7 linked regions of the Homo sapiens genome follow. The protein of the gene in region 4 interacts with the protein of the main gene of each other region in a pairwise test. Each region holds a gene or a part of one and is shown on either strand. Other genes may lie near its edges.

The links.
Region 1: the proteins of TADA2A (region 4) and PAXIP1 interact in a two-hybrid assay, tested with the Homo sapiens proteins (one large-scale study listed by BioGRID).
Region 2: the proteins of TADA2A (region 4) and ARNT2 interact in a two-hybrid assay, tested with the Homo sapiens proteins (one large-scale study listed by BioGRID and IntAct).
Region 3: the proteins of TADA2A (region 4) and THOC1 interact in binary tests that used the Homo sapiens proteins (3 or more experiments, as listed by UniProt).
Region 5: the proteins of TADA2A (region 4) and KLC4 interact in binary tests that used the Homo sapiens proteins (3 or more experiments, as listed by UniProt).
Region 6: the proteins of TADA2A (region 4) and RNF6 interact in a two-hybrid assay, tested with the Homo sapiens proteins (one large-scale study listed by BioGRID and IntAct).
Region 7: the proteins of TADA2A (region 4) and MTX2 interact in binary tests that used the Homo sapiens proteins (3 or more experiments, as listed by UniProt).

Annotation. Positions count from the first base shown.
Region 1 is NC_000007.14:154,975,625-154,979,124, reverse strand, and holds part of PAXIP1 (PAX-interacting protein 1), read left to right. Parts: intron 1-2,793; coding exon 2,794-3,429; intron 3,430-3,500.
Region 2 is NC_000015.10:80,407,382-80,410,881, forward strand, and holds part of ARNT2 (aryl hydrocarbon receptor nuclear translocator 2), read left to right. Parts: intron 1-3,500. UniProt on the Homo sapiens protein: Transcription factor that plays a role in the development of the hypothalamo-pituitary axis, postnatal brain growth, and visual and renal function. Specifically recognizes the xenobiotic response element (XRE).
Region 3 is NC_000018.10:216,048-219,547, reverse strand, and holds part of THOC1 (THO complex subunit 1), read left to right. Parts: intron 1-578; coding exon 579-662; intron 663-2,914; coding exon 2,915-3,062; intron 3,063-3,500. UniProt on the Homo sapiens protein: Component of the THO subcomplex of the TREX complex which is thought to couple mRNA transcription, processing and nuclear export, and which specifically associates with spliced mRNA and not with unspliced pre-mRNA.
Region 4 is NC_000017.11:37,465,886-37,469,385, forward strand, and holds part of TADA2A (transcriptional adapter 2-alpha), read left to right. Parts: intron 1-1,568; coding exon 1,569-1,640; intron 1,641-3,500. UniProt on the Homo sapiens protein: Component of the ATAC complex, a complex with histone acetyltransferase activity on histones H3 and H4. Required for the function of some acidic activation domains, which activate transcription from a distant site. Binds double-stranded DNA.
Region 5 is NC_000006.12:43,069,631-43,072,611, forward strand, and holds part of KLC4 (kinesin light chain 4), read left to right. Parts: intron 1-723; coding exon 724-825; intron 826-1,061; coding exon 1,062-1,235; intron 1,236-1,644; coding exon 1,645-1,744; intron 1,745-1,936; coding exon 1,937-1,989; intron 1,990-2,221; coding exon 2,222-2,292; intron 2,293-2,516; coding exon 2,517-2,625; intron 2,626-2,981.
Region 6 is NC_000013.11:26,212,315-26,215,814, reverse strand, and holds the end of RNF6 (E3 ubiquitin-protein ligase RNF6), read left to right. Parts: intron 1-222; coding exon 223-1,991; 3' UTR 1,992-3,040; downstream 3,041-3,500. UniProt on the Homo sapiens protein: E3 ubiquitin-protein ligase mediating 'Lys-48'-linked polyubiquitination of LIMK1 and its subsequent targeting to the proteasome for degradation. Negatively regulates axonal outgrowth through regulation of the LIMK1 turnover.
Region 7 is NC_000002.12:176,335,442-176,338,525, reverse strand, and holds the end of MTX2 (metaxin-2), read right to left. Parts: intron 1,034-3,084; coding exon 862-1,033; 3' UTR 501-861; downstream 1-500. UniProt on the Homo sapiens protein: Involved in transport of proteins into the mitochondrion.

The sequences.
Region 1 (3,500 bases), on a different chromosome or scaffold from region 4:
AGGCAAAGGCATCTAAACATTGCTTTCCTCTTAAATCATCTTTGTTTAAACAGTTACTGTCTTTCAGTGATTAAAAACTACCTATCTTGTGAAAAGCGAGAGAAAACTTGAGTGAAATATAGTAAGGCTGTTTACCTAAGTGTTTTACTTAGATTTCCACAGGAAATAGTCAAGTTATTTCTGAAATGTGAAATGCCAGCATTCTATACAAACTAGGAACTCAAGAGCCTACTGGATCCCAGCCTTTTAAGTGTGAAATTATCTTTTTCATATCCAAAATTTTCAGTGACTCCTCTTCATGGCAGTAGTTTTGTTTTGTTTTTTGGTATTTGTTAAAACAATTAAAAATAACTTTTTTTCATATTTTACTATTTCAACAGATATCTTTTTAACTTGGAAAAATCATATGTAAACCATATTACATATAGTCATATGTTATTCAAGCAGATGATATTTTTGTATTAATTGGTTCATAAATATTCTGCTGTGTACCTGGACTTCATATTTTCCTAAAATAACTTGGGTTTTTCTGGAATGGGTAGTCCAGAAATTGAAAATCTCTAGTAGAAATTTATCATCTGGGGAGAGCTATATAACATTTTATGCTTTTAAATATTTAAGAACAGCATGATTTTTTAGGGTAAAGAATAAGACATTTTATTGTCGAGGGTATAGGTAAATTGATGTACTCTTACATAGCTGTTGGAAGTGTAATTGGAATAGCCTTTTTGGGAAGGGAAGTGTAGTTAGAGATATGAAGCCTTAAATCTATTCCTTTTCAAACCTCAACACCAAAACCTAGGAATTTGTCATAAAATATAACTGCAGTTTTTCATAGTAGTGAAACACTGGAAACAACCACGTGGCTAACACTGGGGGATGAACTAAGGTACACAGCTGTGCAACCGAAGAGGAAACTGTAAAAGCCTTTGAGACTACTGGGGAGATCTGAATAGGGCCTGAGGATGAGGTGAATCATAGTTCATTGTGCTGCTATGATAATTATGGTGGTTTAGAAAGTCTTTATCAATTTGAGATCCGTAAACAAAGTTCAGGAGAAGCAAGATTTGTAAAAGATTGCCAGTTATTAAAGCTGGGTGACAGATACAAGGGATTTATTCCACTAGTCTCTAATTTGGTCTGCGTTCGAAAATGTACATTAAAAAGTTTGGTCTGCGTTCGAAAATGTACATTAAAAAGTTTGGTCTGTGTTCGAAAATGTACATTAAAAAGTTAAAAACAAAAGCATAAAAGTATACATGTTTTCATAGGAAGAGGTTGTTCACAATATATTAAGTGAAAAAGGAACATTATAAAGTATTTGTTCACTATGACTATATGTTTTTTCCCTTTGCCCTTTTAATATATGTACATATATATTTATAACAAAAATAAATTTAAACTATACCCTAAAAATGTTAATCGTGGTCCTTTCTAGTCAGTGTGATTATGATTACATTCATTTTCCTTTGCTTAGCTTCTTATTCATGGGTGTCTCCCATGACTAGGTTTTTCTTATATTTTAAAAAGGTTTGAGAAAGAACAAACTCACAAACACAAGTTAAGTCACTGAGCTGTGTGCAGAGCTCACTATTTGCAAGGATCTCCCAGATGGGCAATGCCTGGCGTTCGCTGCCAGGACCGAATGACCAACAGCTGTCCTCTCTGTGCTGCTGCCCCGCATCCCTATTGCGTGTGACTCTTATTCCACCCAGAAATTGCAAATGCCACCTTGGGGCTCTGCAACAGGACACGGAGTTTAGTTTAGGGCCCTGATTATGTGTTTGCTAGAGAATTGCTGTTATGTGTTAAGCTTTTAGGAGCACAGCCAAATTTACAACTCATTTATTTTAAGGTTACTTTATTGTCATATTACTCTTATTTAACATTTTTTATTTATTTCCTCTTTCTTTGTTATTCCCTCCCCTGTGCCTTCCACATTCTACACCCTTTACCACAGGAGAGGTCTCTGTTAGCTTGCCGAACATACTACTCCGGACACATCTTTTCCAGTGGGCTGTATTTTCTGCTTTCATTCTAACTGTGCAAATTGTCATCATTTGTGCCCCAGCCAAAGCTCACCTTTCAACGGGGCTTTCCTCCTGCCCTCCAGCTTATGTTGATGAGATTCCCTTCCAGTCTGTTACTGCATCATTCAGCAGTGGTTTTATATTGTATTTGCATTCCGTATTTAATATCTCTTTAGAACCAAATTGTGAGCCTTGTTAGGTCAGAGACTTGTTGCATCCTTTGTGTCTCCATCCCTTAGTGCTGCTTGGCATATAGCATGAGCTCCATAAATACTGGATCTTGAATAGAGCTGTCCTATGCAAGTCAGCCAAGTCAGCCATGCTCCATGAGTGTACGTGATGCATTGGCGGCACTCTGCCACGCTGTTACTTTACTAACTGTCATGGAAAACCAAGCTTCTAAATATTATCAATCAGTAAAAACTTAGGTAGCAATTATTCATTTCATAATTTTCCATAGGATTACTAGCTCTACTTTTGTACTTAAAATATCATTTTAAAAAGTTAATTTTCAGCCAAGTCTTTTAAGACTCCTGCTACAGGTGTGAGACCTTCCTATGATCACTGCTGTATGGTTCCTTTTCACTTTTGCCTCATGTCCTCTGTCTAAAAGATCAAACGTTGCTTCTGTATAAAATTGTAATAATAGTTGCTCAACATTTCAACTGCATTCCTTGACTGAGTTTTTTCTAAAATGCGTAATTGTAGGAAATGTGATAAAATTTACAGCTTTGTTTTGTGTGTGTTTCTGCTTTCCTCGTAGGAGAAATACGAATGTGCTTTAAAGCGAGCAAGTATTAAAATTGTGACTCCTGACTGGGTTCTGGATTGCGTATCAGAGAAAACCAAAAAGGACGAAGCATTTTATCATCCTCGTCTGATTATTTATGAAGAGGAAGAAGAGGAAGAGGAAGAGGAGGAGGAAGTAGAAAATGAGGAACAAGATTCTCAGAATGAGGGTAGTACAGATGAGAAGTCAAGCCCTGCCAGCTCTCAAGAAGGGTCTCCTTCAGGTGACCAGCAGTTTTCACCTAAATCCAACACTGAAAAATCTAAAGGGGAATTAATGTTTGATGATTCTTCAGATTCATCACCGGAAAAACAGGAGAGAAATTTAAACTGGACCCCGGCCGAAGTCCCACAGTTAGCTGCAGCAAAACGCAGGCTGCCTCAGGGAAAGGAGCCTGGGTTGATTAACTTGTGTGCCAATGTCCCACCCGTCCCAGGTAACATTTTGCCCCCTGAGGTCCGGGGTAATTTAATGGCTGCTGGACAAAACCTCCAAAGTTCTGAAAGATCAGAAATGATAGCTACCTGGAGTCCAGCTGTACGGACACTGAGGAATATTACTAATAATGCTGACATTCAGCAGATGAACCGGCCATCAAATGTAGCACATGTAAGTCACTCTTTCCGAAAAAAATGTCAGTATTGGATCTTAGAATTGGATTTCACAGTCTATTTCAATGT
Region 2 (3,500 bases), on a different chromosome or scaffold from region 4:
TGGATATAATACAGGTCCAAATTTGGAATCTGCTCCTTCAAGGTCCCCTGTTGGGGTTTTAGGTTAGGATTCTACCAGCTACTCTGGGAGAGGAGAAGAAAGGATTGGGCTCCCAGATATTCTCCTCATGACTTCTGCTATGACAGTCCTGGTTATATTCCTCATATCCTGTGGCCCCTGGTGCCTCCTCCTTCTGGGTCATTTACAGTCCTTACGTTGGTCACTGAAACTGTTGTATTGGCTGATTTTCTCTTTTCTCTCTGGCCAGGAATGACATATATCCTTTAGACTAGAGAGTGAAGTCATAGAATCTTCCGTTTTGTGTGTCTGTGTGTGTGTGTGTGTGTGTTGTTTTGCTGCCTTTTTGAATGACATTTAAGTGTTTCTGATGTATAGGAAATAGTGAAGATTTGAATTAGTTATATACATAAAAGGGTATTTGCAGCTGAAATGGCACAATTAAGAAGGAGATTGTTTCCCCAATGTCATTGTTCCATCTTAATCTTTTGTAATTTAAGCATGAGGGAATCAGCTACAAATTCAGACCAGTAATCATTAGGAATTAAGCATTATGTGGACATTCTCTGAGATGAGTATTTGCAGAGTAATTAATAAGGCTCATATGTTTTAAAGGATTTCAAAATTATGTTTTAAGAGATTTGGAATTCCACTTTTTTTTCTGAAATCAATTATTGGATTTTTTCCCCACTTCCAGGTTTCTGGTCTTTGGCATTTCAATTTGGAATTAATTGTATAGTGCAGGAAGATTCTCTGGACAAATTGCCTTAGATGGAGGGACATTTGAATCAGCTTGTTGAACTGATTGGATATCTTTGATATGCCAAGCTGTCTGCAGGGAATAGAGCAATGTGGAGATGAGGGAGAATATTTCTTGACCTCAGGGGGTTCTAAGTCTACTAGGGGAGGCATAGGTAGACTAACTTAATAACACCAGGTGGAATGAAATGAACGTTGACTAGGCATGTTCATATCATCATGGGGAGCCAGAGGAAGTCTTATGGGAGGTAACTTCTGAACGTGGGCCTTTTGAAGACAGAGATTTTGACTTATAGAGAATTTAGGAATGGTCATTTTGCGCTGATGGCTGGCGTGTGAGGCAGACAAGATTTGTGAAAATATGGAATACTGTCAAGTGGTTGCTTCCTCAGTGCTCTTGGGGACTCAGCAGGACACCCAAGAATGTGGGTAGGTTTTGAGCCTTTGAGACGTGTGCGCTATGCTTGCAAGCTGTCCTGCCTTGAGTAGGGCTGGAACAGCCAAACCAGCTGGACATACAGTTGAGCCCAATTTCTCTATATCCTGTCCTTCATTGAATCTACGAGCCCATCAGTTGCAGGACACATCATTCTTTTATGGACTTATAAGAAAAAAATGAGCTGATGGCATTTTGGCTTTCATCAAAAGAAAGAAAAAAAGGAAGAAGTGATACCTGAAAAAAGAGATTTATTTATTCCTTCAGTATATATTTATTTTAATTAATTAATGAATTTTAAAAAGTTAATTTTTAAAGGCTCCTTTTTTAGGGCAGTTTTAGGTTCACAGCAAAATTGAAAGGAAGGCACAGAGATTCCTCATATATCCCCTGCCCCCACACATGCACAACCTCCCCCATGATCAACATTCCCCAGCAGAGTAGTACATGTGTTACAATTGATGAACCTACAATGACACATCATTATCACCCAAAGTCCATAGTTCACATTAGGATTCACTCTTGATGGTTGGTAGACGTTCTATGGGTTGGACAAATGTATATGACTTATATCTACCGTTATAATATCATGCAGAGTATTTTCACTGCCCTAAAAATTCTCCATGCTCCACCTATTCATTCCTCCCACTTCCGAATTCTTGGCATCCACTGATGTTTTTACTGTCTCCATAGTTTTGCCTTTTCCAGAAAGTCATGTAATTGGATTCATGCATTACGTAGCCTTTTCAAACTGGCATTTTTCACTTAATAATATGCATTTACATTTTCTCTGTATCTTTCAGTGGCTTGATAGCTCATTTGTTTTGGTGCCGAAGAATATTCCATTGTCTGGATGTACCACAGTTTATTTATTCATTCACCTACTGAAGGACATCTGGGTTGCTTCTAAGTTTTGGCAATTATGACGAATGAAGCTGCTAGGGGCTAATACTTACTGAGTAACTACTATGTGCCGGGGACTGATCTTGGTTCTGGGATCACTGTGGTGAGCAAATTAGGTATAACTCCTACCATCATGCTGCTTGCTAGCAAGACAAATAGTCACAAAAGAGTAACACAATTGGGTTAGTTATGAAAAGTGTAAATGTTATGAAGAAATGATCCCCTGAGATAAAATAACCAAGGGACCTAAATTAGAGGATTAGCAAAGGCCATTTGAAGTCAGTGAAAGCCTCTCTGAGGAGTTGACCCTTGAGTCAAGCTCCAAGGAATGATGAGAAATGTGAGGAAGAGCATTCCAGGCACAAGGAAGAGCCCCTTCAAAGGCCCTGAGTTGGGAAGAGCTGGAGAACAGGGAGCAAGGGTGAAAGCGGTGTGAGAAGCTGGAGCTGCGGTAGAGGCCAGCTCACGGGGGACCACTTTTGGGTTAGGGACTGAGACTTCATTTTTAAAAAGCGCTGGAAATCTACTGAAGGGGGTTTGAGCAAGGGGCATGATCTGACCTGCACTTTTAAATGCTGCTTCTGGCTGCTGTGTGGAGAGCCAATTGGACTGAAGCGGGAGGAAAAGTAAGACTCCAGTTAGATGGTGCTAACTTAGGTCAGGGGCTGTCAGTAGAGAATGAGAGAGAGGGAGGTGGATTTGAGTTATACTGGGGGCAGGGATGCCATGCTGAACAACTCCAGGGGCACCAGTTACTTCCCTGTCCATCCCTTGGGCACGACATGTCCTGCTTGGGGCAGAATCATCATGACTTCATTGTAAGGAGTTAGGGGAAGAGTCAAGGACGATTCCCAGCTTTCTGTCCAACACCTGGGTGGTTGGAGGTGACAGGAAGTTAGTGAGAGGCAGGGGGCCTGTGGGGTGTGCTCCAGGCTTCAGTATTGGACAGCTGAGTTGAGCTGCTTGTGCGACAAGCAAGTGGAACTGTCATGGAGGCAGTGGGACACATGCTCCCAGAGATCTGGGCTGGAGAAGGAAACAAAGAGGGATGTTGGCCAGCCATTTACCAGGTTCTCTAAATGCTTTCCTTGGGGTAAGTTAGTTCACAGAACATAGAGCTTTTGGTCCAAGTACCATAGTTCCCAAACAATGCTTGCATTTACTGCTTTATTGTCTGTCTTTATTGAGATTCACTAAGACACAAGGTCATAGGGAGATTATTTCTGCATCTTTTCCAGATCCAGCAATCCATTCATTTTTATCTATCTATCTATCTATCTATCTATCTATCTATCTATCTATCTATCTATCTATCATCTATCTACCTACCTATCATCTGTCTACCATCTCTCTCTCTCTCTCTCTTTCTCTTTCCCTCCTTTTG
Region 3 (3,500 bases), on a different chromosome or scaffold from region 4:
CTAAAAGTATGGGGCCATTAGAATCTTGTCCTGCCACCACTTTATGAGTATTTATTATTAAGAGTATATGCCATCCTCACTGGTTATTTTGTACCGCTCAGGGAACACATGCCCACAATCTTGTCCTGCCACCACTTTATGAGTATTTATTATTAAGAGTATATGCCATCCTCACTGGTTATTTTGTACCGCTCAGGGAACACATGCCCACAATCTTGTCCTGCCACCACTTTATGAGTATTTATTATTAAGAGTATATGCCATCCTCACTGGTTATTTTGTACCGCTCAGGGAACACATGCCCACAATCTTGTCCTGCCACCACTTTATGAGTATTTATTATTAAGAGTATATGCCATCCTCACTGGTTATTTTGTACCGCTCAGGGAACACATGCCCACAATCTTGTCCTGCCACCACTTTATGAGTATTTATTATTAAGAGTATATGCCATCCTCACTGGTTATTTTTGTACTGCTCAGGGAACACATGCCCACAATCTTGTCCTGCCACCACTTCATGAGTATTTATTATTAAGAATATATGCCATCCTCACTGGTTATTTTTGTACCGCTCAGGGAACACATGCCCACTTTGGAGGAATTCTTTGAAGAAGCCATTGAACAGGCAGACCCTGAAAATATGGTGGAAAATGAATATAAGTAAGTATGCTCCTCATTAGCTCCTTTTAATTTTCTTCAATTTGTTTCTTCCTTAGGAATTGTGTGTATACTAGAAAGCCTCTTAAGAGAGGCAGTAGATAGAATAGTGCTTTTTCTCTTAGGTGAGTTTATGTTCCAAGTTCTTGTTAGTACACATCCTGATTTCAAGGATTATTCCTGTTAACTAAGCATGACTTGGAATCACCCTTGTTTCAAAATATAAGAAAAAAAAAACTCCCCCTGATCCCCATTTCTCTCCAACTATTAGTTCTGTTCTCTCTACCCTTCAAAGCACAGTATCTCACAGCAGCTGTTAACCTATCCTGTTCCCCTTAATGTTTTCTTCTCTTGGCGTCCATGAGAATCCAAATCCATGGTTCTTCTGTTTGCCCTTTGCCCTCGTTGCCCACTCCACCTCACATTCCATTTCAGCCTCCTCATCCTCTGCCTAACTCAAATTTTGGAGTAACATCAGGAATTGGTCTTAGCCTCTTTATCTAGAACCTTCTGGGTGACACCGCAGTCTCATGGCTTTAAATAGGAATTGAAGAGTAGTGGTTTAAAGGCAAGAGGCCTCTGGTCAGAATGCATAGGTTCGATTCCCTCTACCACTTACTTACTAGGCAACTAAGGCTAATTTAATTATTAAACCGCCAGTTCCCTTTCCTCATCTGTTAAATAGTAACAGTACCCATTTCACAGGGTTATTCTGAGGATTAAATAAGACAGTGCACTTTGAACCCTACAGGGCATGTGGTTAGCACTCAGTATTTGTGACTAGTGTGACCCTGTGACCAGAGTTGTTAATTACTGTGACCTCTTAACTAATCTCTCTAGTTGTGGTCAGTGCTCCATGCATCAGCCAGTGATCTTTAAAATAATTGTCCAAGTCTAATCTGCTTAAAATCTCCCAGTGAGTGCCTATTCCAAACTCCTTCCCAGGGCCTAAAAGACCTCCTTGGTCTGGCTCATACTCTCCTGTGTGGCCATGCCTCCCCTCTGCTTTAACCACAGCAGGCCTCTTGGTCCTGTCTTTCCCTTTCCTGTCAGGACCTTCACACTTTACTGTCTCACTTGCTTGAACCACTTTTTCCCCAAGGTTGCCGTGGCTTAAAGTCCCCCTGGCTGGGAAGCTCTTCCCCTCCCTGGTCTCCTCTTTTGCATTCTCGTGGTTTTTATTTCACGGCACTTACCACTATCCAAATGAGAAGGTGGCACTTACCACTTTCTCATTTCTCAAGTTTTCCTCATCCTTATGAAATTGTCTTATACCTTGTGTGTTTATCACTAGCAATGCCTGCCTTACTGTGCCTCAGGTACTCTCCACAGCTACTGAGTGCCTGGCTCAAAAGTGTTTGTCGATTGAAAGAATATTAATTTATCACTGTTACATAAGACTAGGTGGACTCATTCCTAAAGTGATAGTTCAAATTATTATCTCCAAAGAGGGTTTTGTGGAGAATAAGAAAAATGATGTGTATAATTGACAGTGAATTTTGAAAATGCCTAAAATAATCAAATTGTCTAAACAGATATGTCAGAGAGGAAGGCTCTTAACTGTTTAGGCAAAGCCTCACAGCAGGTGTTAACTTGGGAAGAGTCCCCAGTGTCTATGGGTAGTTTTTGTTAAGTCTTCAGTGGTACCTGCACATCCTAAAGGTAACATATGCTTATTTATAAGAGGTGACCAAATAAACCAAATTGCTATTCTTAGGGGAGGAAGAGACTTCCAATCCAAAACTCTTAAATGGAATAAATTTGTGGTTTGGTTTCTTCCGCAGCATTGCATATTTCTGACGCATTATCTTTAGAATTTCTCTGCAGTTTGTTTCTCACCTGATGGTATACCACCCTGATCATTGTTATACTTCATTAGGGAACAGTTCATGGATTCCAAATAGCTAGATGGATGATTCCTGTTGTATACGTACTGCATCCAGCCAGTACTGCACACACTTGTTGACTTGTTAAAATTAAACAAAATGAACGGAAACTTTGAAAATGTGTTTGCTGCATATGAGCCTGCCTCTTCAGGCATTGTTGGTTCCTGTGATTAGTTACATGTGCATCTATTGGTTTGTTATTATCAGTGGACTACATACTGAAAAGTTCTTTAGGAATAAGATTCAAATACAAAGAATGGCACTTTGAGCTATTTACCTTAAATACAGAATTACACATGGCAGAACTGAGCAGAAGGGAATACAGAAATACAAAGCTATAAATTACAAGCCTGACACCTCTTTTTATAGGGCTGTGAACAATTCAAATTATGGTTGGAGAGCCCTGAGACTATTAGCACGGAGAAGCCCTCACTTCTTCCAGCCAACCAACCAGCAGTTTAAAAGTTTACCAGAATATCTTGAAAATATGGTAATAAAGCTAGCCAAGGAATTACCGGTAAGTACCATAGATCAACTTTTCATACCCTTTAGTTGACATCTTCTTTAAAATTGCTGTCACTATGTGAGCAAAAAACTGACTTAATCATGTGAAAAACCAGTGATCCACAAGCTCCCATGTTTTAGAATGAGGGAAAAACACATTGGAATATACATTTACAGGAAATACATGAGTTGATAAAGAAGTAACTGATAATTTTCTGTACAGCATGTAATTTAAAGTTCAACAGGGCTGTGGGTGCGGTGGCTCACGACTGTAATCCCAGCACTTTGGGAGGCCGAGGCGGGTGGATCATGAGGTCAAGAGATTGAGACCATCCTGGCCAATATGGTGAAACCCCGTCTCTACTAAAATATAAAAAATTAGCCAGGTGTGGTGGCACGTGCCTGTAGTCCCAGCTACTCAAGAGGCTGAGGCAAGGGAATTGCTTGAACC
Region 4 (3,500 bases):
GTCTGGTTTCATCTTTACCACTCACTCTTCCCTCCTGCCCTCAACTGGATTATTCTGAAGCAAATCCCAGACATCATTTTATTTTGTTCATAAATATTTTAGTATTAAAAGTAGTTTTAAAAATGAGGACAGAGATGGATAGCTTGTGGAGATAGTACTTCCATCGATCTCTTGCCTTTCTGTGGTATTTCTGTGAGAGCTCTACATAGTTACCATTTGATTTTTCACTATAAAAAATTAAAAGTTGTTATGAGGCCGGGCGTGGTGGCTCACACCTGTAATCCCAGCACTTTGGGAGGCCAAGGCAAGAGGATTGCTTGAGTCGAGGAGTTCGAGACCAATCTGGGCAACATAGTAAAACTCCATCTCTACAAAAATACAAAAGTTAGCCAGGCATGGTAGTGCACACCTGTAGTCTCAGCTACTTTGGAGGCTGAGGTGGGAGGATTGCTTGAACCCGGGTAGCCGAGGTTGCGGTGAGCTGAGATCACACCACTGCACTCCAGCCTGAGCGACAGAGTGAGACCCTGTTTCAAAACAAAATATGTTGGTATGGCAGTAAGGCCTAGATTGTTAAAATAATATGGACTCTGGCTTGTTCTGTACCTTTCATCATGACATTTGTGTATGTGGCTTCTAAGTTTAGTTCTGGGAAGGTAGTCTACTAAGGCCCTTATTCTCACCGTGAAAATATTTCTTACATAGCATTGCAGACATTTATCTGAGCCAGGTTGGTTGTCCTCACCAAACACCTTGTTTGGTTAGCATTCTTTGTGTGGTTTGTACCAGGTGACTGATCCTTTACTTCCTGTCCCAGTTTGGGACACACCCCTGGTTTATGTGTCATTCCAAAACACTACACCCCATGGATTGTCCAGGCTCTTCCTTCATTCTCTGTTTCAAAAGCAGCCAAATTAGAATGATTTGTAGAACTTTTAATAGAAGATAGTTAGAGCAGGGAAACTTGGTTGTTAAAAAAATTATATTTTGCCCAGTGCGGTGGCTCATTCCTATAATGCCAGCTACTTTGGAAGGCCGAGGCGGGTGGATCACCTGAGGTCAGGAATTCGAGACCAACCTGGCCATCATGGCAGAACCCCATCTCTACTAAAAATACAAAAATTAGCCGGGTGTGGTGGTAGATGCCTGTAATCCCAGCTACTCAGGACGCTGAGGCAGGGGGAATTGCTTGAACCCGGGAGGTGGAGGTTGCAGTGAGCCGAGATCATGCCATTGCAGCCTGGGCGACAGAGCGAGACTCTGTCTCAAAAAAAGAAAAAAAAAATTGTTACTTTTGTAGACAAATGAATTTAACCATTTCACTAAGTTTTCTAGAAGACAGTTCCAGCTGCTGCATCTGGAGACAGCAGCTGGAAGATAGCTGGAGTAGGTTTTCCTCAGCTCTTGGGTAAAATTTCTAATGAGAAGTTACCAACGAGTAGGATTCTCCAAATGAACTTCCCTAGTCTTATAAGGCAGAATTAATGAAAATGCTCAATAGCAAAAGTGCTCACTAATGTTGCTTTTGTTTTTGTAATTTTTTCCTTCATTCCTTTTGGGGAAAACAGTGGAATTTGAACTCCGAAGGGAAATCAAGAGGCTCCAAGAATACAGGACAGCAGGCATTACCAATTTTTGTAGTAAGTATGCTTCAGCTACATACCGTACTTGAGGGCAAGTATCTTCCAGACACACAGAGGAAGTCTCTGAATTGTTGTGAATTTTTTTTTAAAAAACAAGCTTTCCTTTACCAGAATGCTTTAAACCTTTCCAGTAAAGTTTTGGCTATTTAATCCCTATAAATACCTTTGTATAGATTATCTTTGGTACTACAAAAGTTGTGAGACAAAGGAAAGAGAGGTGCTGCTTTAGATTTAGGATTCTGCCGAGGCTCTTTAAAAAAAGGGAATCTTGGGCCGGGTGCAGTGGCTCACACCTGTAATCCCAGCACTTTGGGAGGCCAAGGCAGGTGGGTCACTTCAGTCCAGGAGTTCGAGACCAGCCTGACCAACATGGTGAAACCCTACCTCTACTAAAAATAAAAAAACTAGCCAGGCGTTGTGGTGCACACGTTTAATCCCAACTACTCGGGAGGCTGAGGCACAAGAATCGCTTGAACCTGAGAAGCAGTTGTTGTAGTGAGCCAAGATGGTGCCACTGTACTCCAGCCTGGGTGGCAGAGGGAGATTCTGTTTCAAAAAAAAAAAAAAGGAATTTTATATTTTAGGTGTGTCACCCTTTTCAAATTTAATGATACATGGTCTTAGCATTTTTATAAAATAATGAAGCTTCAACTGGCTCCAGGTGCTTGCATCCCAGTTACTTGGGGTAGTGACAATAATTATATTATTAGCAGCTAACATCTATCAGATATTTACCATGTACCAGTCTCTATGCTAACCATTTCACTTGGATCAAGTCAATGAATTCTCATGACAAACTTATAAAGTACCGTTACTTCCATTTAGTGAAGAAATTAAGGTATAAAGAGGTTACAGAGCTAGTTAGTACTAGAACCAGGTCATAAGAGATAGTGTATTATAGTAGTTAAGAGCTTGGGTCTAGACTTAAAAAGCTTGAGTATAAATTTTGGCTCTCCAGCTTGCCAGCTCTGTGATGTGATTCTATCCAAATTTATTTTTCTTTCCTTTTTTTTTTTTCCCTAGAGACTGACTCTTGCTATGTTGCCCAGGCTGGTCTCAAACTCCTGGCCTCAAGCAGTCCTCCCGCCTAGGCCTCTCAGAGTGCTGGGATTACAGGTGTGAGCAACTGTGCCTGGCCTCTATTCAAGTTTTAATTTTCTAAGGTTCTTAGAGTTAGTGTAAAGATTTAATTAGAGATACTGCATATAAGCATAGCACAGTATCTGGCACACAATAATTCCTCAATAAATGGCAGTTTCTGTTGTTTTGCTGTCATTGTTGAAATGATCTTTAGCATTCCCTCCTTCTTCCTATTTGAAGTTTTTGTGATTATTGATAGTTGTCACCTACTATCTATAAGAAATAGTTGGCTTCTTTTTTTTTTTTATTTGAGACGGAGTCTGGCTCTGTTGCGCAGGCTGGAGTTCAGTGGTGCCATCTTGGTTCACCACAACCTCTGCCTTCTAGGTTCAAGCGAGTCTCCTGCCTCAGCCTCCTGAGTAGCTGGGACTACAGTCATGCACCACCATACCCGGCTAATTTTTTTTTTTGTATTTTTAGTAGAGATGGGGTTTATCCATGTTGGTCAGGCTGATCTCGAACTCCTGACCTCAGGTGATCCACCCACCTCAGCCTCCCAAAGCGCTGGGATTACAGGTGTGAGCCACCACGCCCGGCAATAGTTGGCTTCTTAACACAGCCCTGTGGGTGCAACATAGCCTTATGGATGTAAGTTCAGCCTAGTATAATGGCTCTTTAACAGTGGAAACCATTTTTGAAATTAAATTTTGTGTGAGCCCCAATCTACAAATAAGATAAAAGTGGGCTGGGCACGGTGGCTCACACCTGTAATCCCAG
Region 5 (2,981 bases), on a different chromosome or scaffold from region 4:
ACCTCCACCTCCCGGGTTCAAGCAATTCTCCTGCCTCAGCCTCCCGAGTAGCTGGGATTACAGACATGCCACTACGCCTGGCTAATTTTGTACTTTTAGTAGAGACGGGGTTTCTCCATGTTGGTCAGGCTGGTCTCGAACTCCTGACCTCAGGTGATCCGCCCACCTCGGCCTCCCAAAGTGCTGGGATTACAGGCGTGAGCCACTGCGTCCAGCCAAAAAGCTATTTTTGAATGTGATCTGTGTGAAAATAATTCCCTATGGTATGACATATGATAGGCAGGGATGATGTATCTCAGAAATCATACTCCTGTCTTGATATCCCATCAAATATCAATGTTTACATTTAGCGTTTGGATGTCTGGCAGGACATTAAAAAATTGGCAGAGCTGTCCCACACATGCAGAACATCTATAGCGTTCTTGCCTCCTCAAAGGTAATCTTCATGGTGACAACAACAACAACAAAAAAAAAAAAAAAAGAAAGAAAAAAAACACCTCCAGAAATTTCTTAAAATCCCCTAGAGGGCGATACTGTCCCTTAGCCTCAGAGCCATCCTGTTCAGCAATTTCCCCTCCCTTCAGCCCCTGGCTCCAGGGTAGTAGACTTTGTCTCTTAGAGTTGTGCAGTGAGTGTTGGGCCCTGCTGGGAGGTGGGGAACCTCAGATTCCCATAGGTCTTTTGCAACCCAAATGTCTGATGGGGACAGGCCTGTCTTCATAGGTGGCTGCCACACTCAACAATTTGGCTGTGCTCTATGGCAAAAGGGGCAAGTACAAGGAGGCAGAGCCTCTGTGCCAGCGGGCACTGGAGATTCGAGAAAAGGTACCCATGCCCTCTCTCCCTTCTTCTCTTGTCGCTGTGACCCTTCTCTACATGGCTCCTCTGGTCTAACCCTCCTCCTTCACTTTTTTTTTCTCACCCCCATCTCTGCTTTGTTCTCTCTTCCTTCATTCCCTTTCCTCTGCTTTCCACATGTGTGTGCCTACATGCAAACACACGTGTGCTTGTGCACACACATGTTATCATAGCCATTTATCCACTCCTTTGTTCCCTTTCAGGTCCTGGGCACGAATCATCCAGATGTGGCAAAACAGCTGAACAACCTGGCCCTCTTGTGCCAAAACCAGGGCAAGTATGAGGCCGTGGAACGCTACTACCAGCGAGCACTGGCCATCTACGAGGGGCAGCTGGGGCCGGACAACCCTAATGTAGCCCGGACCAAGAACAACCTGGTATGGGAGGAGGGACAAAGTAGGTGGAAGAAACGGAGAGGGGGGCACAGAGGTGGGGGGAGGGGGGGCAGGCGGAGAGGCCACTTGGGTCCTAGAGTCAGGAAGCATCACAGTCTGGCACACTGCTCTCATCAACTTTGTGCTCATGTCTGGGGCTGCCTTTGCGGATGAAGGATCTGCTTCATTCCAGTTATAGAAGTTCCACAGCTTCTTGGGAGTGGGCTGGGAATACCCTTGACCCTACACCTGGAGAAGGAGGTGTGAGAAAGATCTCTGGGGAAAGTGAGAGAGACACTGAGAAGTGGAACTCCCTGAGCCTGGTGAAGACCTTGTCTAAAAAAAAAAAAAAAAAAAAGACCTTGCCTCCCTCCATGTTTTGTTCCTGTATTTTTGCCTTTCTGTCCTCCAGGCTTCCTGTTACCTGAAACAGGGCAAATATGCTGAGGCTGAGACACTATACAAAGAGATCCTGACCCGTGCCCATGTACAGGAGTTTGGGTCTGTGGATGGTGAGTGGTGAGGGCCTGGGGAAGGGGCTGTGGGGAAGAAAAGAAATTCAGACCAAAGGTCGGGGGTTAGGCCACAGCGGTTCCCAGGGGGAGCCAGACCCCTTCAGTCCAGCCTGTCAGCCTCTGGGTCCTGGCTCTCCGACACTGTCTAGCTCCCATCTCTAACCTCCCCACCCCATGTATCACCCCTAGATGACCACAAGCCCATCTGGATGCATGCAGAGGAGCGGGAGGAAATGAGCAAAGTGAGTGGGGGGAAGGGGGGCCAGCCTGGGGAGCTCAAGGCTACCGGGGTCTCTGTCTTACTCCTTGCATTAGCCCAACTCTCACTTCCCATCCCAGCACCAGCCCCAGATGCATGGTGTCCTCCCCAGCCCAGCCTGCACCCTAGCCCCATGCCACCTTGCATCTCAGCATCTCTGTATTCTTATATTTGGCTCTCCCTGCCCTTCTTTCTGGCCTCTCTCTGTCCTGCAGAGCCGGCACCATGAGGGTGGGACACCCTATGCTGAGTATGGAGGCTGGTACAAGGCCTGCAAAGTGAGCAGGTGAGCTGACAGTGAAAAGCCAGCTTGGCCTCCGATGCCCTCCATCCAGTCCCTGCTCCCAGCCTCCCAGACCTTTTCCCTTCCTCCCGTAGACTTTCCCTCAGCTTTAGCTCTGTTCCCTCTCCTATTTTCTTATTTTTTTTCCTCTTGTCTTGCTTGGAAGACAAATGTTTTGTTTTCTGAACTCATTCTCTCTTCCTTCTCTGGTCTCTTTCTCACCACAGCCCCACAGTGAACACTACTCTGAGAAACCTGGGAGCTCTGTATAGGCGCCAGGGAAAGCTGGAGGCTGCTGAGACCCTGGAGGAATGTGCCCTGCGGTCCCGGAGACAGGTCAGAAGCCCAGAGGGGAAGGAGGTCCTAGAGGGAAGGGCCCTGGGGATGAGAGAGTGCCGAGGTTTCTTGGGAGTCTCCTAAGAATAAGCGGAAAGGCTGATGAAGCCAGGAGGGAGAGGAAAGTGAGGCAGTGTTGTGATTGTGGTTGTTTTTAAGCATGTTCTTACCCCCCACCTGCATTTTGTGGTCAGGACTCTAGTTTCAAGATTCACTAAATGGGGATATGAAGGAGAAACCCTGCCCTTTCATAAGGAGGGGACCTGGGTGGTATGGGTGAGAGGAGTGAGGTTGGGGAGAGCCTAAATCAAGAATTTCTTAGATTGTGGGTCTCAATAGTAGGTTGTGAAATCAAT
Region 6 (3,500 bases), on a different chromosome or scaffold from region 4:
TTTAAAGCTTTGTAACTATGTAAATAGTAATTTAATTTTTATAATATGCTTATAGTAGATATACTTTTCTTTTAGAAAGTTGTCTTTTTGCCATCTTTCATTCATTAAAATCCACAGATGTTCTTTAATTTATTACAAACTTTGTTTTTCTTACAAGTTTTCAATAAAGCTGTAAGGTGTGTCTTAGGAATTGATCTTAAGTTGATTTGCTTTGCTTTCTAGACTCAGAAGTCCCTAGAGAAAGTTCACATGAAGATTCTCTTCTAGAATGGTTGAACACCTTTCGGCGCACAGGAAATGCAACTCGAAGTGGACAAAATGGGAACCAAACTTGGAGAGCTGTGAGTCGAACAAACCCGAACAATGGAGAGTTTCGGTTTAGTTTGGAAATCCACGTAAATCATGAAAATAGAGGATTTGAAATTCATGGAGAAGATTATACAGACATTCCACTTTCAGATAGTAACAGAGATCATACTGCAAATAGGCAACAAAGGTCAACTAGTCCTGTGGCTAGGCGAACAAGAAGCCAAACCTCAGTGAATTTCAATGGTAGTAGTTCCAACATTCCAAGGACTAGGCTTGCTTCAAGGGGGCAAAATCCAGCTGAAGGATCTTTCTCAACATTGGGAAGGTTAAGAAATGGAATTGGGGGAGCAGCTGGCATTCCTCGAGCTAACGCTTCACGCACTAATTTCAGTAGTCACACAAACCAATCAGGTGGTAGTGAACTCAGGCAAAGGGAGGGGCAACGGTTTGGAGCAGCACATGTTTGGGAAAATGGGGCTAGAAGTAATGTTACAGTGAGGAATACAAACCAAAGATTAGAGCCAATAAGATTACGATCTACTTCCAATAGTCGAAGCCGTTCACCAATTCAGAGACAGAGTGGCACTGTTTATCATAATTCCCAAAGGGAAAGTAGACCAGTACAGCAAACCACTAGAAGATCTGTTAGGAGGAGAGGTAGAACTCGAGTCTTTTTAGAGCAAGATAGAGAACGAGAACGCAGAGGTACTGCATATACCCCATTCTCTAATTCAAGGCTTGTGTCAAGAATAACAGTAGAAGAAGGAGAAGAATCCAGCAGATCCTCAACTGCTGTACGACGACATCCAACAATCACACTGGACCTTCAAGTGAGAAGGATCCGTCCTGGAGAAAATAGAGATCGGGATAGTATTGCAAATAGAACTCGATCCAGAGTAGGGCTAGCAGAAAATACAGTCACTATTGAAAGCAATAGTGGGGGCTTTCGCCGAACCATTTCTCGTTTAGAGCGGTCAGGTATTCGAACCTATGTTAGTACCATAACAGTTCCTCTTCGTAGGATTTCTGAGAATGAGCTTGTTGAGCCATCATCAGTGGCTCTTCGGTCAATTTTAAGGCAGATCATGACTGGGTTTGGAGAACTGAGTTCTCTAATGGAGGCCGATTCTGAGTCAGAACTTCAAAGAAATGGCCAGCATTTACCAGACATGCACTCAGAACTGAGTAACTTAGGTACAGATAACAACAGGAGCCAGCACAGGGAAGGTTCCTCTCAAGACAGGCAGGCCCAAGGAGACAGCACTGAAATGCATGGTGAAAACGAGACCACCCAGCCTCATACTCGAAACAGTGACAGTAGGGGTGGCAGGCAGTTGCGAAATCCAAACAATTTAGTTGAAACTGGAACACTACCCATTCTTCGCCTTGCTCACTTTTTTTTACTAAATGAAAGTGATGATGATGATCGAATACGTGGTTTAACCAAAGAGCAGATTGACAATCTTTCCACCAGGCACTATGAGCATAACAGTATTGATAGTGAACTAGGTAAAATCTGTAGTGTTTGTATTAGTGACTATGTAACTGGAAACAAGCTCAGGCAATTACCTTGCATGCATGAATTTCACATTCATTGTATTGACCGATGGCTCTCAGAGAATTGCACTTGTCCGATCTGTCGGCAGCCTGTTTTAGGGTCTAACATAGCAAACAATGGGTAAGGTGATGGGATCTACTCAAATACTGTTTTTTAGTAGAACTGAATGTTCAAGCATTGTTTTGCTGAGTTATTTGTGATTAGCTAACCAGGATGAAAAATAACAGATTATATATAGTTTGAACTATTTTTCGTGTGCTTTTTTAAACTTGTTAAAAAGAAATTTATATAAAATTTAAAATACAAATGTTAAATTATCCAGAAATACAGAATAGTTAATATTGCTAGAACCAAATAACCTCTAAAATGTTTTTATTTTGGTAATTTTGTCATGCTAAGCACTTTTGTATCTGCACAATTCAGTAGGTTAAGAATCAATCTTCTTTTTCTTAATAGTACAGCAGACTTTAGCTTCAAGTTTCATAGGCTTAGTACTTATATCTAGACATTTGTGTCTAAATAAGCTTTTCATTAACTTTTTATTTTAAGGACAGTATCTTTTCATGAAAGAGTATTTGGCTGAATGTTTGCTATATATATGTTACTTGAAATGTTAAATTTAATATGCAGCATACCATAGGTGTATATATAGGTATATAATTTTAAGGTTAAAATATTCAGTCTACAAGTTTGGTTCTTATTTAAGCTTTTGGGCTAATACTGCATATGGCACAATGTTTAATATTGGCAAGTTCATCTCAGAGAAAGGGGATTCAGATATAATTTTAAAGTAGAGATAATTTACTGAAGCGTCTCTGACAATCTAACTTATTAGACAGCAAGCAATATATAATACTGAAAAAGTATTCAGAAATGGAAAATTTACATCATATAGGTTATTTAACTTGTGTTCAGCCTTTTTGTAACTTTTTTGAAAGTGCAAACAATTCTTTGGATTATTAAATAAGGTATACAGTATGCATGGTTTCTCAAATTTAGTTTTAAAATCTAAAAGTCTATAAAGAATCAGATGCATAGGCAATATGTTAAGTTCACTTGGAGGCTAAAAATCTCCAGTGAAAACAAAACGAAAACCTTTAAGAGAATGTAGAGTTTATATAAACACAAAGTATGCATTGAAGATCTGTTTCTACCAATAAACATTAAAACAAAGACTGTATGTGAACTATGTTTTTCTGTTGTTCCACTGTGGTTTATTCACCCTCCACTAATATTTCATACTAGATGCCAGGCAGTGTTATGGGATAGAGTATTTCCCAGACGACAGACAAAAGTCCCTGGCTTCATGGAAAAGACATATTTGCTCTTAGAAACTGAATATCAATTGATAAAGTGAATTATTATTCTTACTTTCATATTTGCTTATTAATATATGACAGGATTTTCTTGTGGTGATACTGTTTGGGCAAAATCACAAGAACAGTACTTAGGCCAGATTCTGTGAGATTTAGAAATATCTCCACATTTAATTTTCCTTTCTGACTGGTGACTATGTTCAATTCATTAGGTTAGATGCATGCCCAGGAATGTTAAGGAGTGCATTTACATGGAGTAAAAGGTTTTCATAAAAGTTGTGACTTTGTTTGGAGTAAATTATTTATGTAGGTCAGTT
Region 7 (3,084 bases), on a different chromosome or scaffold from region 4:
AATAAGTTAAAATTCCCTGGTACATAAAAAGAAAATATAAAAGTACTATTATTCTAGACATTTTTAAGAAATCATTTTTTACGTCTGTCTCTTCAGAGCATCCCTGGTTTTATAAGATATAAACTATGAGAAAATTTGGAAAGGACACAACATATAATCCTTAGTGTTTACATAAAAATTCCTGTTAATACTTTTGTGAAAACTATCTTCCCTTCCCCACAAAGGAATAAAAGAGCATTATTAAAATGTTCTTGTCTCAAAAAAAAAGGTTCCTCAAACTTTTCCTTTATCAAATGTAAATCACAGCTGCTCTGATGAAATGTTTTTTAATTAAGTCTCTATATAAAGAATGTTCTTAAATGTCAAATCTGCACCAAAATTTAATTACCTTAAAACCATCCATATTTTCTAAGTGCACACTTGTTAAGAACGTTTATTCCCATTATCTGCTTCACCATGTAACTAGCAAGGGAATCTTGGGAGTATGTAACACAAATTACTTGCCTTAGAAAAGACACTGTTTATTCCACATGTGTAAAATTCAGTGAATGACTTTCAGAAAAATCAAAAGAAAGTAAATGTAACATCCATACAGTTGTTTAAGCTTTATTTTTAAATGCATGCATGTTTCAAGGAAACAAAAATTTCAAGATACAGAATACAACATATCAGATTAAATAATTCAGAATTATTTTAATGTATACACAAATAACAATATAAAGCACATACATAAGATACATTATATAATTTGAGGTTTCAAAAAGCAGTAATTTGGTTTTAAAATTCTGACACCAATATCTAATGTAACATTCAAGTAAAACATATTTCAAAAGTTAAGACTCCTGAGACTAACACATAACTCTATGACAGCCTGCCTTTACCACGATCTTCAAAATAGTGCTGTTCAATTCTCCTACAGAAAGCAAGGAGGTTGCTATAGTTTTTCACCTTCTCAGAAAGTTCATCATTTGTCAATTGTGTGGTAAGAATGGTGTATAGATGGCCAAATACCAGTGCGTCAAGTTCAGTAGGCCTAAAAGTAGAAATGAGAGTAATGTGAGTAAGTAGCATTTAACTTTTACAATAGAAAACACAGTTGGCCCTCTTCACCCACAGGTCCCATACTCGTAGGTTCAACTAACCTCAGATCCAAAATATTTTAAAAGATTAGAAATAACAATATAGGCCAAGCATGGTGGCTCATGCCTGTAATCCCAGCACTTTGGGAGGCTGAGGTGGGCGGACTGTTTGAACTCAGGAATTCACAACCAGCCTGAACAATGTGGCAAAACCTCATCTCTACAAAAAATACAAAAATTAGCCAGGCATGGTGGTGCTTGGCTATAGTCCTAGCTACACGGGAGGCTGAGGTGGTAGAATGGCTTAAGCCCGGGAGGTGGAGGTTGCAGTGAGCTGAGATCACACTACTGCATATCATTTAGATTGTGTGTATTGGGTACTATAAGTAATCCAAAGATGATTTAAAATATACGGATGTACATAGATTACATGCAAACACTGCACCATTTTTTCTTTCTTTCTCAATACATTAAGTTTACGTAAGCAATTATGCCATTTTATATAAGAGACTTGAACTCTGCAGATTTTAGTATCTGTGGGGGTCCCGGAACAAATGTCCTGTGGATACTTGAAAGACCCCCGTGGATATGTTTTTTAAAATCATTTTATTCATCAACTTAAAAGAAAAAAGCCACGTAAGAAACAAATCCTACCACAACTTGATATAACTTTTCTTGGAGTTTCTGCTATATGGAAAAAAAATATGATTTGCTAGTTGTGTGACTTGCTTTCTTTAGTAACAACATTTAGGTGTGTTAAAATAATATAGATGTAATGATCATATTCATTTAATTCATTACTTTTCTCACTAAATATAGCAGATCTCCAATGTGCCAGAAACCATACCAAATGCTAGACATAAAAACAAGAAAAATACTCTAAGACATGTACATGAAACATAAATTATAAAGTTGTTTTAATAAATACAATTTATTAAGTGTTTTAATAGATGCATAAACAAAATGCTGTCAAAGCACAAAGGATTTCGCTGTGGTGATAGGACCAAAAAAATGATACCCAATCACAAATCAACAACAAGACACAACTTTAATTTTACCACATTTAAAGTAACTTAGATTTCTGAAGGAGACAAAATCATAAGGATGGCTTCAACATAAAAATTTCTAGGAATTTTTTTCTCTGTAATTATATATTACTAACAACAAAATGAAATCTACCCCACTACTAATGATCTATAAATGGGGCATCACCAATTTACATTATATTAAAATAATTACTAATGCACTATTACTAAAACAAGAAAATGTCATCATAATTACGAGCTAATTATTACTGTGTCCCACAGTGATAAAGTTTTTGAGAAAATATGTGCTAGCCTACATAAATGTGAAAATATGTTGCAGTAATCTGGTTTGGCAGAATAAATTTGGGGGTTGGTAAAAATCCAAATTTGAACTCCAATACTATCACTTACTAGCTATGTGGCCTTGAACCCTATTGATAAGTAGTCTCCTAGAGATGCATGGCTTTAAATACCATCTTGATGCCACTGACTCCTAAATATTTATCTCTGGTCCTAATGTCTCCCCTGAGCTCTGGATTCATACATTCAAATGCCTACATAACATCTCCACTTCAATGTGGAGTATCTGTGGAGCAGGATGTGGAGCATCTTGACTAAGATGTGTGGGATACTTTATTTTCTCAATAGCAGTAATTTACAGTATCCCAAACCTGCTTGTCCCCCAAACTTCCCAAAATAAAAGGCACCACTATCCAACCAGCTGTTCAGGCCAAAAATTTAGGGGCTACTCTTGAGTTCTTTCTTTCACCCTCCTATATCCATTAGCAAGTCTGGTGAGACACTACCTCCAAAATATGCCCTGAATGCCACCACTTATTCTTCATTATGATTTCACAGTGTAACCTACCATCATCTGTCACCTAGACCACTGAGATAGCCTCCTAAAGTGTCTTACTGCTTCTACTCATTCTCCATACCATGGTCAGAATGACTAATGTCAGCAGATCATACCAACTCCA